2 separate regions of the Homo sapiens genome follow, and region 2 is linked to region 1. Evidence: fine-mapped expression QTL. A gene starts in region 1. The other region holds a variant in brackets. All regions are shown on one strand. Distances are between the middles of the regions.

Region 1 (5,365 bases):
GCACGGAAGCTCAGGGGGAGAGCTGGGGCTAGAACCCGGCCTTTCCACAGCAGGCTCCCTGCCTCCTTGGGGCTGTGCCTTTCTTGACTGGTTTGCTTCCCTTAGGGTGCTCAGAAGGTGATTTGTTCGAAGGTGAATATTGGGGGGCTGCCTGGCACAGTCTGCCATCCAGATGGCGGCCGACTAAGTCCAACAAGGTTGGGAGGAAGAGAGGAGGTGCTCTTATTTAGGGGAGATTTCGGTGGGTGGACTCCCCCGAGGCTGTCGGGAAATTTCCAGGGTCTAGGAAACTGCCCTTTCTCCCCCATCTCCTTGCCACAGCTTCCAGCCTCGCCTTCCAAGAAAACATAGTGAAGCAGGCTCCTCGGTTGTACCCGCCCACTAAGGGACCCTCACTTTGGAAGGGCGTCCCAGTCACCAGCCGACCAAAGGCTCTCCCTCCATAGGTTTCCATCAACCCACCATCTCTGATGGTGACTGAGAAAAGAAAGCAAGGGTTGCAGGACAGGCAGTGTGAAGGCCAAAATCCTGGCCGAGGAGTTAGAAGGCCTCAGCGACTACTGGCCACGTGACTGCTGAGCCTCAGTTTCCCCCACTGTGTTCCCACTGGATGCTCCCTCAAGGCCTCTTCCGGCTCTGAGAAACCTAGGATTCCGATGTCAGGGATTGTGTCTCCCTCCTCACCTTCATGTCCCCAGCAATTAATACACAGTAGACACTTAAAACAGTTCTTTGAATGATTGAATGAAATCGGTCCTCAGGTCAGTCTGAAGATCCGATGGAAGCCAGGAAGGAAACGCTTCCCCCAGGCGCCTACCGTCTGTCAACCATAGAAGCCACACGTCTTGGGAGAACCCTGGCAAGCCTAGAGCCCTTTGCACACCCGCTTCCTCTCCTAGATGCACAGATCTGTTTGGAGGAGCCAGGGGGGAAGCAGGAAAACGTGCCAGGAAGAGAGGGTGGCCTGAACCCCAGGCAACGGCGGGTAGCCCTAACTTTCGCTTTCTTGACTCCTGTGGCCCCTCTCCTTCCCTCTTTCTGGTTTCCCTCCCCTTCCTGCCTCCCTGGCCTGGCCTCCTTGGCTTTCCTGGGACAGTAACCACTTTTCCTTCTCTCCTTTGTTAGGGCTCAGAGCCTCCGATGGTCCCAGAGCTGGCCTGATCCTCTGCTGGTGAGGATGACTCCCAGAGCCTCAGGCTTTCTCTGGGTCAGGGAAAAGAGCAGCGGCAGTGGAGAGATTGAAATTCTGGTCAGTGCCCAGCTTCTGGAGCCCAGCACCTGGGAATGGCTCTCGTTAACACCTGGAGCTCCGGACTGGGGCTTTGAGGAGGAGGGAAAAGGGCTGCGCCCACTCTTTATCCAACCTTCCCTTCCAGGTTTAGGGAAGGGGCTCCTCTTTTGAGGGAATCTGGCAGTGCCTTTCCCTCCACCTTCCTCTGCAGGGTTCCCAGGGAGATGTTAGGGTTTTCCTTCTGGGCTTCCTGAGCCTCCATCTCTTCCCCTCCACACCCCTAGGGAGGTGGCTGGATAAGGAAGGAAACTGCCCTCTCTCTCCCCTGCCTCAGCCCAGCCTGAGACTTATTTAGATGTACTGTGTGTGTGTGTGTGCATGCACAGTGCGCATGTAGGGTGTCAGTGTAGCATTGTAGCTGGTGTGTGGTGGTGCGGTATATATGCGGTGTGTTTGGTGTGTATGTGTGTATAGGTATGATGTATATGTATGTGTGGTGTGAGTGTGAGGGTGTGTTGATTGCGTAGTGTGGTATATGTCTGTATGTGTTTGTGGTGTTGGTGATGTGCAGTGTGTGTGAAGTGGGTGGTGTGAGTAAGGGGCCACTGCAATTGGGTGTAGGAGCCAGATATCTAGGTCTCCTAGCCAGGGATAACCAGTATCTAGGCAACCATACTGGGGGGAGGGGAGGAGATATGGAGGTGAGGAATGGGCAGGAGAAAGAGGGAGGCTGAGAAATGGAGGAGTTTCCATGGCAACGACCAGGCAAGTCACGTGCAAAAGGCTAAGTTGCGGACGTAGACATACACATCCATAATATGAGGGTGGCTGGATCCCCAAAGGGGGCTCCTTTCAGAGAGGGCCTGAGATGCCCACTGATCCATCTTCAAAGCTGGAAATCTTAGCCCAGCCAGACAGCACGAAGCCACAGAGACAAAGGAAGTAGTGGCAGAGAGCACACTGGTGGGGAGAAGCCTCCAGTAGCCACGGTCCCGCGAGCGTGCAGGCTTGCAGCAGGTGACGCGGCAGACCCATGTTTCCAGCGAGGCTGCTCCCAGCTCCCACCCTCGGGTGCCTCCTCTACCAGCCACCACTTGTAAGAGCCAGAAGCCAGCGCTGGGAGCTCCAGGCTGCACACCCAACTCTCCACGGAAGCCCGGGAGACACAATAGGGGAGGCTCTGCCAGGGCCAGCCCTGCTGGGGAAAGGGGGCAATGGCGGACCCCAGGGCCCCCCGGAAAGGAAACAGGATTGGATGGATAAGACAAGAAGGAGGGAAAAAATGATGCACTCTCATGAATCCCCGAGCGCTAGAATCCTTCTTTCCCTGCGCCCCCATCCTGTGCCCACTGCCCAGCCCCACCTTCCCCAAGCACCAAACCAGCAAGTTCCATTTTGTGTCGCTCATAAGTCCACACTCACACCCAGCCACACGCCCTCGTCCGTAATTCCCCACGCTCCACCAAGTGTCCACAGCTTCCAAGTAACAAAGGGAAAACTCCTCATGGATAAAGGGTGGGCGCAGCCCTTTCCCCTTCTCCTGAAAACCCTGACCCCAAGCTCAAGGCAGCACCGAGAGCAATTCCCAGCCACCAGCGTCACCCCCAGCGCCACAGCCTGCCTCCCCTAGAGGCTCCTCTCTCTTCCGACGCCGATCTCCTTGTTTACATCCCCAGCCCGGTTTCCCGCTGCCCAGGCGGGGACCGCGGCGCAGCTGACCGCGGAGGACCGCACACACCCACTGAACACACAAAACCCGGCGCTCCCGGCGCTCCAGAGATCGGTCCCCACCGAGCCTCGCCCCTCCTCGGAAAAAGGAGCCAACTTTGCCCACCTCCCCAGCCGCCTACCTGCACAGCCGGTCCCCTCCGAGACTCCCAGGAGGACCCGCCGAGTCCCGAGGAGCCTGGGAGTGGCGGGGCTGGGGGCAGGGCGGTGGGTGAGGCTTGAGCTGCTTTCCCGCCTCCCCTCCTCCTAGGAGTCGGGCTGGCTGGGAGGCGCGTCCTGCGGGGGCGGGGGGGGGGCTCGCTCGGGGCTGGGCTCGGGGACAGCCCACTCCGTGCTGCCGTCCGCTGGCTTCTGGGTAGCGGCCGCGCGCAGACCCCCTCTCCTCCTCTCCCTGTCCGTCCTCCCGCTCTGTGCTCGCGCGCGTCCTCTGCTCCTCTCTCCTCTCGAGGGGCGGAGAGATTTTTCCAAAGGGCAGTCAAGCTCCGAGAAGCAACAGGAGACTGCCGCCGAGGAGGCGTGCAAGCGCCGGAGCGGATTTGCCATCAGCTGTTGCTTTTCGGTTTCCCTCTGGTTAGGGTGGGAAGGGAGCAAGACAGGCACAATGACAGACCTGGTGTCTCTCTGCAATAGTAAACCCCGAGGAACGGAAAAATAGGAGAAAATAACCCAGCACCAGACACAGCAGCCCACGTTAATTGGGAGCCTTGGTAATTAAGGGGAATGTGCACCAAAAGCATGAATGGCTGTGTCGTGGGCGCAGGAGCCAGCTCCAGTTGTAGTTGTCATTTTCAGCTAGAGCCAGGTGGGGAGCTGGGGGGATGGTCCTTACCTGAACCATAGATCTGCTGCCTTGAACCCCCTTTTCAAGCCCCATCCACCTCTGGCCCTGCCAGGAGCAGTACCACCCCGTCCTCAGCCCAGTCCCCAAGAGTCAAAATTCATGATGACGAACTTTGAATGTGAAGATGTAAATAAATCCTGGCTCGGCAACCCTGCCTGTGACGCGACTTGGAGCATATCTCTGCACTCAGCTCCTGAGTCTATTTCCTCACGTGGGAAAATGGTGATTAGAGACTGACCCCATGGGAGGCTTAGCTCATAGTGAGTGCTCAAGAAATTGGCTCTTACTATTAGGGGCAGAGCTTGTAGGAAGGGGCAGAGGCCAGGCACAAGTGTCAGTAGCCAGGAGCCATGCTGAGATGGAGGCTGTCCAGCCTCAGTCAAGGTGTGTGTATGGCCGAGCCGGGTGGAGGGAGGAGCTACTGAGAAAGGCTGTGATTGTCCAAGCCTAGGTAGGGCCACGGAGAGTTCCTTACAAACCCCAAGCCGGGGATGATGGGTACTGCTAGGAAGAAACCTAGCCCTGCCTCTGCTGCCCTCAGTTCTGGGCCTGTTTTCTCATTTGGGAAAATAGGGAGATGGACTAGATGATCCTGAGGTCTCTTCCAGCTCTGCCCTAGATGATCTAATTATTTTAATAAAAGGTCAGGTCTCAAAACCCCAAGGCAGGAAATATACATGAACTCAAGAAGACTTTGGAACCAGTAGGGGAACCATAAATAGCTACTGAGAAAGAGCACCCAAAAAGCCTCCCCTCAGGGGATAGTTCTGGCCCCTTAATCATGGGACCTGGCTGAATGGATGCCACTCTGGCCCAGTCCTGAACTCCCTGGGGTTCCTGTGAATGCTAAAGCTCCTTCTCCAAAGCCAGACTCAAATCTTGCCTATTTGCGTGCCTAACCCTTTGCCGTTCCTGTCTTTTCCTCTATAAACTGAGGACAGCATTCCAACTGTCGTTTTCCCTTTTCATGTATTCTAGGTGGCAGATTTAAAACCACATCCCTTTCTAGGCCCATGTCCTTAGGCAGGTACATTCATCCCTCCAAATGCCCTTGAATCCTGCCTTTTGGCCATCTCTCTGTGCTTTTTAGAGCACCTACTAGTGATGACACGTCAAGCCCAGGCTTTGCAAGCCTATTTGGGAAAGGATAGTTCAGAACTCCAAAGCCAAGCCACCTTCTGGTTCAACCCCATTTCCAGCCAGAGAGTTCTGAAGTGTTTGGCCCAGTGACTTCCCAGGTCCCCCTACCTAATGCTGACCAGCCCAGGCTGCAGAGGGATAACAGGAACTAAATGTGCATGAGAAACCGCCATGGCTTAACTCTCAAATAGTGCTTCATCACGTTCCATCCAAGGGTACTGCTGGAAGAATTTGGGGTGTTACAGCTACAAAGCAGCACGCAAGCTTGTTCTGGGGTGAGTCACATCTCCCTTCTAGCAGGAAAATAAACACATCTACCCCCTGTGAAAAATGTGGGCATTCATAAAAAGAGGTCGCCAGCTGTTCCATTCTTTCAACCACGTATGGACAGGAGGAGCTACTCTTCACTGAGACCTGGGCCAAGA
Region 2 (5,365 bases), 40 kb before region 1:
TGAGCCTCAGGCTCTACCAGACTGCCTCCAAGCCCAGCTCAGAGGTAGGAAACCGTTCTTCTGGATAGTGCAGGGGGGCCCACCCCCTCCAGTCCCTGCCATCCAGGTCCTTCAGGACATGCGATCACAGCATCACCTGCTCTGCCATCATTGCCTTGGCAGGTGCCCCACTGTTGTGCAACCAGGCCCGGGGCTGGGCTGGCCCCATCAGATCAACAGCTGGTTGGCTTGAGCCGGCTGAGTCTGCCCCCCTGGAGCTCAGCTGTGACAGCAATAAATCACACTAATGGAGAGAGGTGGCCATTCCTTCTCTGTGGCCTGGAGACAGGTTTTTCCAAAGCTCCTCCCCTGGCTCAGGCAAACACACCTGACCTTTCTCTCGCTGGGCCCAGGGTGAGGCAGAGCAGCCAGGAACAAGGTGGGGTGAACCAGACAGAGCTGGAGTGCTCTCCCACCCCTGCTTTGCCCAGCCTCCCCGCCAAGCCCATGATTCCAAGCAAGGTAAGGCCCTCCTCCCAGAGGAAGGGGCCAACAGCCCGGTGACCTTGGAGTGTGCTTCGCCTGGCACTCCCCTCACACCGCTCCCTACAGCTTGTACTCTGCCTCTGACTCTCTTCCAAGAACAATTTGGCAAGTTCTAATCTACATCTTGCAAAAAAAAAACAAAAAACAAAAAACAGAGAGGTAGGAGGGCCACAGCACCTGGGGTCCCAGAAGGCAGACTGACCTATTCCTACAGCAGGGGTAAGTAACGCAGAAAACCTCCAGGCAAAGAGACATGGAGATCTTCGAAATGGAATGGGGGGTGGAGGGAGTCACTGGGAGGCAAAAGGTGTGGGACACCTGAGGTTACTGAGACAGGGAACTTGGGATTCCCTTCTGGGAAATGACACAGCATGGCAGCTGTCCTTCTTATTCAGTCAAGCTACATTGCCTCATTAAACCAAATCACAGCTACAAACCAGTGCCACATGCCTGGAGGCTGAGTGGACACTCCTGGTCCTCCTCATGGAGATATATAGCACTCTGAGTTCTGATCCAGCTCATCTGTGTGAAGTCCTCAAACAAGCACATAGTAAGTGCTCCATAAACTTCAGCTGCTCATTTTTTTTAATTATTACCATTTTGACCATCATTTCTTCGATTGTTCTTCATGTGTCTTGTTTCCAGACCATTAGACTCCCACAGGAGGCTCCTTGGAGCATGGTCCAGCTAGTTTATGTCTTGAAGGGGCAGCCATGCTCCAGGTGCAGTCTTGGGAGCCATCTGATCACTGTCCCTTCTTCTGAGCATCTGCCTGCTGAAGGAGGCTAGGCCATGTGCTGACAAGCACTATGGACAGACAGCCCGGGGTCAAGTCCTAGCTCCTCCATCCCCCAGCTGTGTAACCTGGACCAGGACGATTGTATCTCTGACCAATCTCAGAATATAGCTGGATTACTAGGAGGAAAACTAAGTGAGTGCTTAGAGGCGGGCAAAGTAAGGATAACCATTTGTAGATGATGTGCTAGAGATGCTGACCATCATTCCTTACTCTTAACATAATTATTATGAGAAAAATTAGAACCTCCTCATTGGACTTCCTTATTCCTATGTCGAAGTATAATGTTCTGTTTTTACTAACGTATGGGGGGCGGCACACACAAAGCTTTGCATGTCTAGGGCCTCTAGGGATCTCAGCCTGGCCTCGCTATGAAATTTCTGCAAGGCCTGTCAATTCCCTGATGTATCACGAGTGTTCCCGAACAATAAGCTCATTTACCAGGTCTTGCTGTGACCAGATAGTTTTTAATCGCCATGATCACTGGGTTGACAGGTTGAGCTTGAGCTCTACCATAAGCCTGTGTCTTTCCAAAGGCCTGGGGGACCGAAGGCAGAAGCAAGAGCACACGTAGAGAAGGCACCGAGCAAGCGGATCTGTGCGGTTCTTCGGTTCTAAACAACTTGCGGAATCCAGGCGGACTCAGGGCCTGTGTGGCCACTGGGCAGGGAAGGTGGTGGTTCCCAGGCCCATCGAAACCACAAGGAGCACTGACTTCTGTCTCCTGCTATAGCTTCAGGTGCCAGGTTCACTGGGGTCTTAGAAGTTGGGGCTGGAAGGAGGTGGGCCCAGAGGGTCCCGCTCCTTAAGTGCTGGCTTCAAGATGGAAGATATTAAGACGTTCCAGGGGTCGATTCTTTTTTCAAGACCCTAAGATGTTCCAGGCTTCTGTAGAGCAGGCACAGTCCTTGCCCTCCAGGAATTGTATCAATAAAGACACAAAACACTAGAGGCAGAAGCTGCACACAGGCAACCTCCACGCAGAATCTGCCCACATCTGTGTTGGTTTGGCCAACAGTGGTTTTTAGAAAGTTGAGTCAGAGTGTCTTTGGGAGGACACCGTAGGTGACTGCAGGTGCCATGCCCCATCGTCACTCCAGCAGATTCACATATTGGCATTACCTGCCTGGTCTCTACAGTCTGGATGCCAAGTATGAAGTGTGAATATAAAGGCAGCAAACAAGTGTGATTGGGGCACAAGAAAGGGATTCGGCTGGGCGCTGTGGCTCACGCCTCTAATCCCAACAATTTGGGAGGCTGAGGCAGGCAGATCACTTGAGGCCAAAAGTTCGAGACCAGCTTGGACAACATGA[A/T]GAAATCCCGTCTCTACTAAAAATATAAAAATTAGCCGGGTATGGTGGAAGGCACCTGTAATCTCAGCTGCTCAGGAGGCTGAGGCAGGAGAATCGCTTGAACTCAGAAGGCAGAGGTTGCAGTGGGCCAAGATAACGCCACTGCACTCCAGCCTGGGCGACAAGAGCAAAACTCCATCTCAAAAAAAAAAAAAAAAAAAAAAAGGGATTCGATTCTACCTAATGCCCAGGGAGGCTCCACAGAGGAGGGGTATTTCACAATCCACGTCACCCACCCTGTCACTCCCTTGATCCCTTCCTTCCTTTTTTCTTTTTAGAGACAAGGTCTCATTCTGTTGCCCAGGCTGGAGTGCAGTGGTGCAATCACGGTTCACTGCAACCTGGAACTCCAGGGTTCAAGCAATCCTCCTGCCTCAGCCTGCCGAGTAGCTGTGACAACAGGTGCGAGCCACCATGCCCAGCTAAGATTTCACCATGTTGCCCAGCTGGTCTTGAACTCCTGGCCTCAAGCAATTCTCCTGCTTTAGGCTCCCAAGTTGCTGGAATTACAGGTATGAGTCACCACCCCTGGCTCTCTTTACAAGTCCTTAGGTAGTGGCCCCAGAACTGACCAAAGAGAAATGTTAGGATGTTTTACTCCAGGCCACTGAGTACTTGGAGAAGCCATTGTGACTCCCTTTTTTGCTCCAAGACAGTGTGCAATGTACAGGTCCTGCTATGGGATGTGGCTTGAGCCCAGTGGCCTGGGAAGGCGGGAGAGAGGGAGGGAGGAATAGAAATGGCGGGAAGGTGCGGGACGAAGGGCTGAGCAGGAGGAGAGGAAAGTGAAGGAAGAAAAGGAAAGGAGGGAAGAGAAGCGGGGAGGAGGCAACAGTGACAGCAGCTGACGGGGCTCTGTGCCTGCCTGGGTGGCTATCCAGTCCTTCCTCTTCCCTCTGACCATGGACGGACTCCCTCTAGCCCTTTAAGTTCCACAGACCCTACAAACACTCAAGTTCTTTCACAGAAAGGAAAGCACCTCCGAGCCACTAGGAAACAAAGGATATTTTATTCCTTTTTTCTGTTGTTGTTGAGGATAGATCACGATACAGAGAACAGCAATGGGTCACAGCGCACGGTTTGGTTGGTTTCCGCGGGAACACAGAGGACAGGAGGGGCGGGATCTGGGTTGAGTTCCCACTCTCGTTATGACCTTCAACCTCTCACTGTTCCCAAGGGCTGCACGGAGCCTGCTGAGTCTCCAACCCACCTCGCTCACCGCTCTGACCACTGACAGGCAGAGCAAAGGATGCGGGAGTTGCCTCTGCTGCCCATCTAAGGGGACGTAGGCAGAGAAGCAAAGGCCTCTGCTCTCCCTCCATCCATCCCGGTGTGCTGGCCCCAACGGAACAGGAGTCCTTCAACTATTGCCTGCCAGAGACCCAATTGCAGGGACTGTAGTCTGCATCTGGATGAGCTGGGCTGTAGATTGAAGTCTCAGAAGCAGGGAAGGTTGGAAGGGGTAGGGTCCCAGAGCCCATGGAGTTATTGCTGAGAAGATATGCAGGGGACACATTCCCCAGGGGCAGAGTAGAAGCCCTGGGCCTGGAATCCCCGGGCGCTCTGTGAAGGGGCGGGGCAGATGGGGACTCCTCGTGGAAGCCCCTGGGAAGAAATTAACCACGGAAGGGCATAGCCTGCCTGACGTCAACGCTGGGCTCACCAGCTCCTTGCTTTGTATCTCCAGTTGCTAAGAGACCTTCAGACTGGGATCAGGTGGGATAAGGAAGCAAGGTTTTTGTTAAAGGAGTGAAAGGAGTCCATGAAGAATGATGACAAAGTGCTGCAAACCTTCCCAGGTCCCAAGACGACTGAAGACCACTGCCCGTGCTCTTACCCTACGCATCCCTAAATCAGGGGAGGGGGCTGGTCTCGGGCAACAAGCAGCCTCCTAGGAGCAGAAGGTGATGGAGGGCCACGGGGGCAGGGAGGAGCAGATGGCCATGTGGCTCAGCCCCTGCCTGGGAAAGCGAGTCCACAGTTCACTAACAAACACAATACCATCCACAAACAAGTAGCCACAAAGACCACAGTTAGCAAACACACACAGTCACACACACACACACACACACACACATCACGGGAGGTGGGCAGGACCGCAGGCTGCAGTGGGGAGGCAAGTGTTAGTTGCATCATCAGGTGGAGGAATGGTGTTAGAGGGGATAGGGTGGGGGACACACAAGTTCTTGGCTTCTCCTGGGGAAAGGGCTGTTGCTGAAGTGGCCGGTTTTCTTAAGCATCGACATTTGCATCCAAAGGTTCAAGCAGCCGCCTCAGGTTCCAGAGGCTGAGGAGGAGGATAATTTAAATTAAAAACACTTCGGCTGCCTCTGGTATCCTTATCTGCTTCTCTCCCTTCCTTGAGCACCTGCCCACTGAAATTCCCGGTATGACAGCCTCGTCTGAGACGCAGAGAAAGGAGACAAAGACACAGGGGAGGGGTGAACCTCAGAAGAAGCCTCTCCCAGGTGGGCTGGAGCCTGGCAGACATGGAAAGGAAATTGTTAAACCCAGGACCTCCCCAGTGGTTGCTCACAGTCCTGAGCCTTAGGATAAAAGGTTTCTGAGAAAGAACTAGTTTGGGAAAAAAAAAATGAAAAGACATTTCATTTCCAGGCTGCCTCCTCTGAGCCTTCCCAGATTCTCAGTCTGTGATGAAATAGACAGAACACCAAGCTACCAGGAAGGGCAC

What was found. PIP is the estimated chance that this variant, and not a neighbour inherited with it, causes the effect.
Region 2: its variant is fine-mapped to the expression of FXYD6 in monocytes (BLUEPRINT, PIP 0.95).

The regions. Positions count from the first base shown.
Region 1 is chr11:117,873,511-117,878,875 of GRCh38, forward strand. It overlaps FXYD6 (FXYD domain containing ion transport regulator 6), which reads right to left and starts at 3,148. Exons shown (of 8, transcript NM_022003.4): 1 at 3,082-3,148. FXYD6-FXYD2 (FXYD6-FXYD2 readthrough) reads right to left here and starts at 3,148. Exons shown (of 10, transcript NM_001243598.4): 1 at 3,082-3,148.
Region 2 is chr11:117,833,318-117,838,682 of GRCh38, forward strand. All of the region lies in intron 6 of FXYD6-FXYD2 (FXYD6-FXYD2 readthrough), which reads right to left. It overlaps FXYD6 (FXYD domain containing ion transport regulator 6), which reads right to left. Exons shown (of 8, transcript NM_022003.4): 8 at 3,664-4,960. It overlaps FXYD6-AS1 (FXYD6 antisense RNA 1), which reads left to right and starts at 401. Exons shown (of 3, transcript NR_186291.1): 1 at 401-744; 2 at 2,952-3,185; 3 at 3,851-5,002. The variant A/T (reference allele first, on the strand shown) is at 2,635.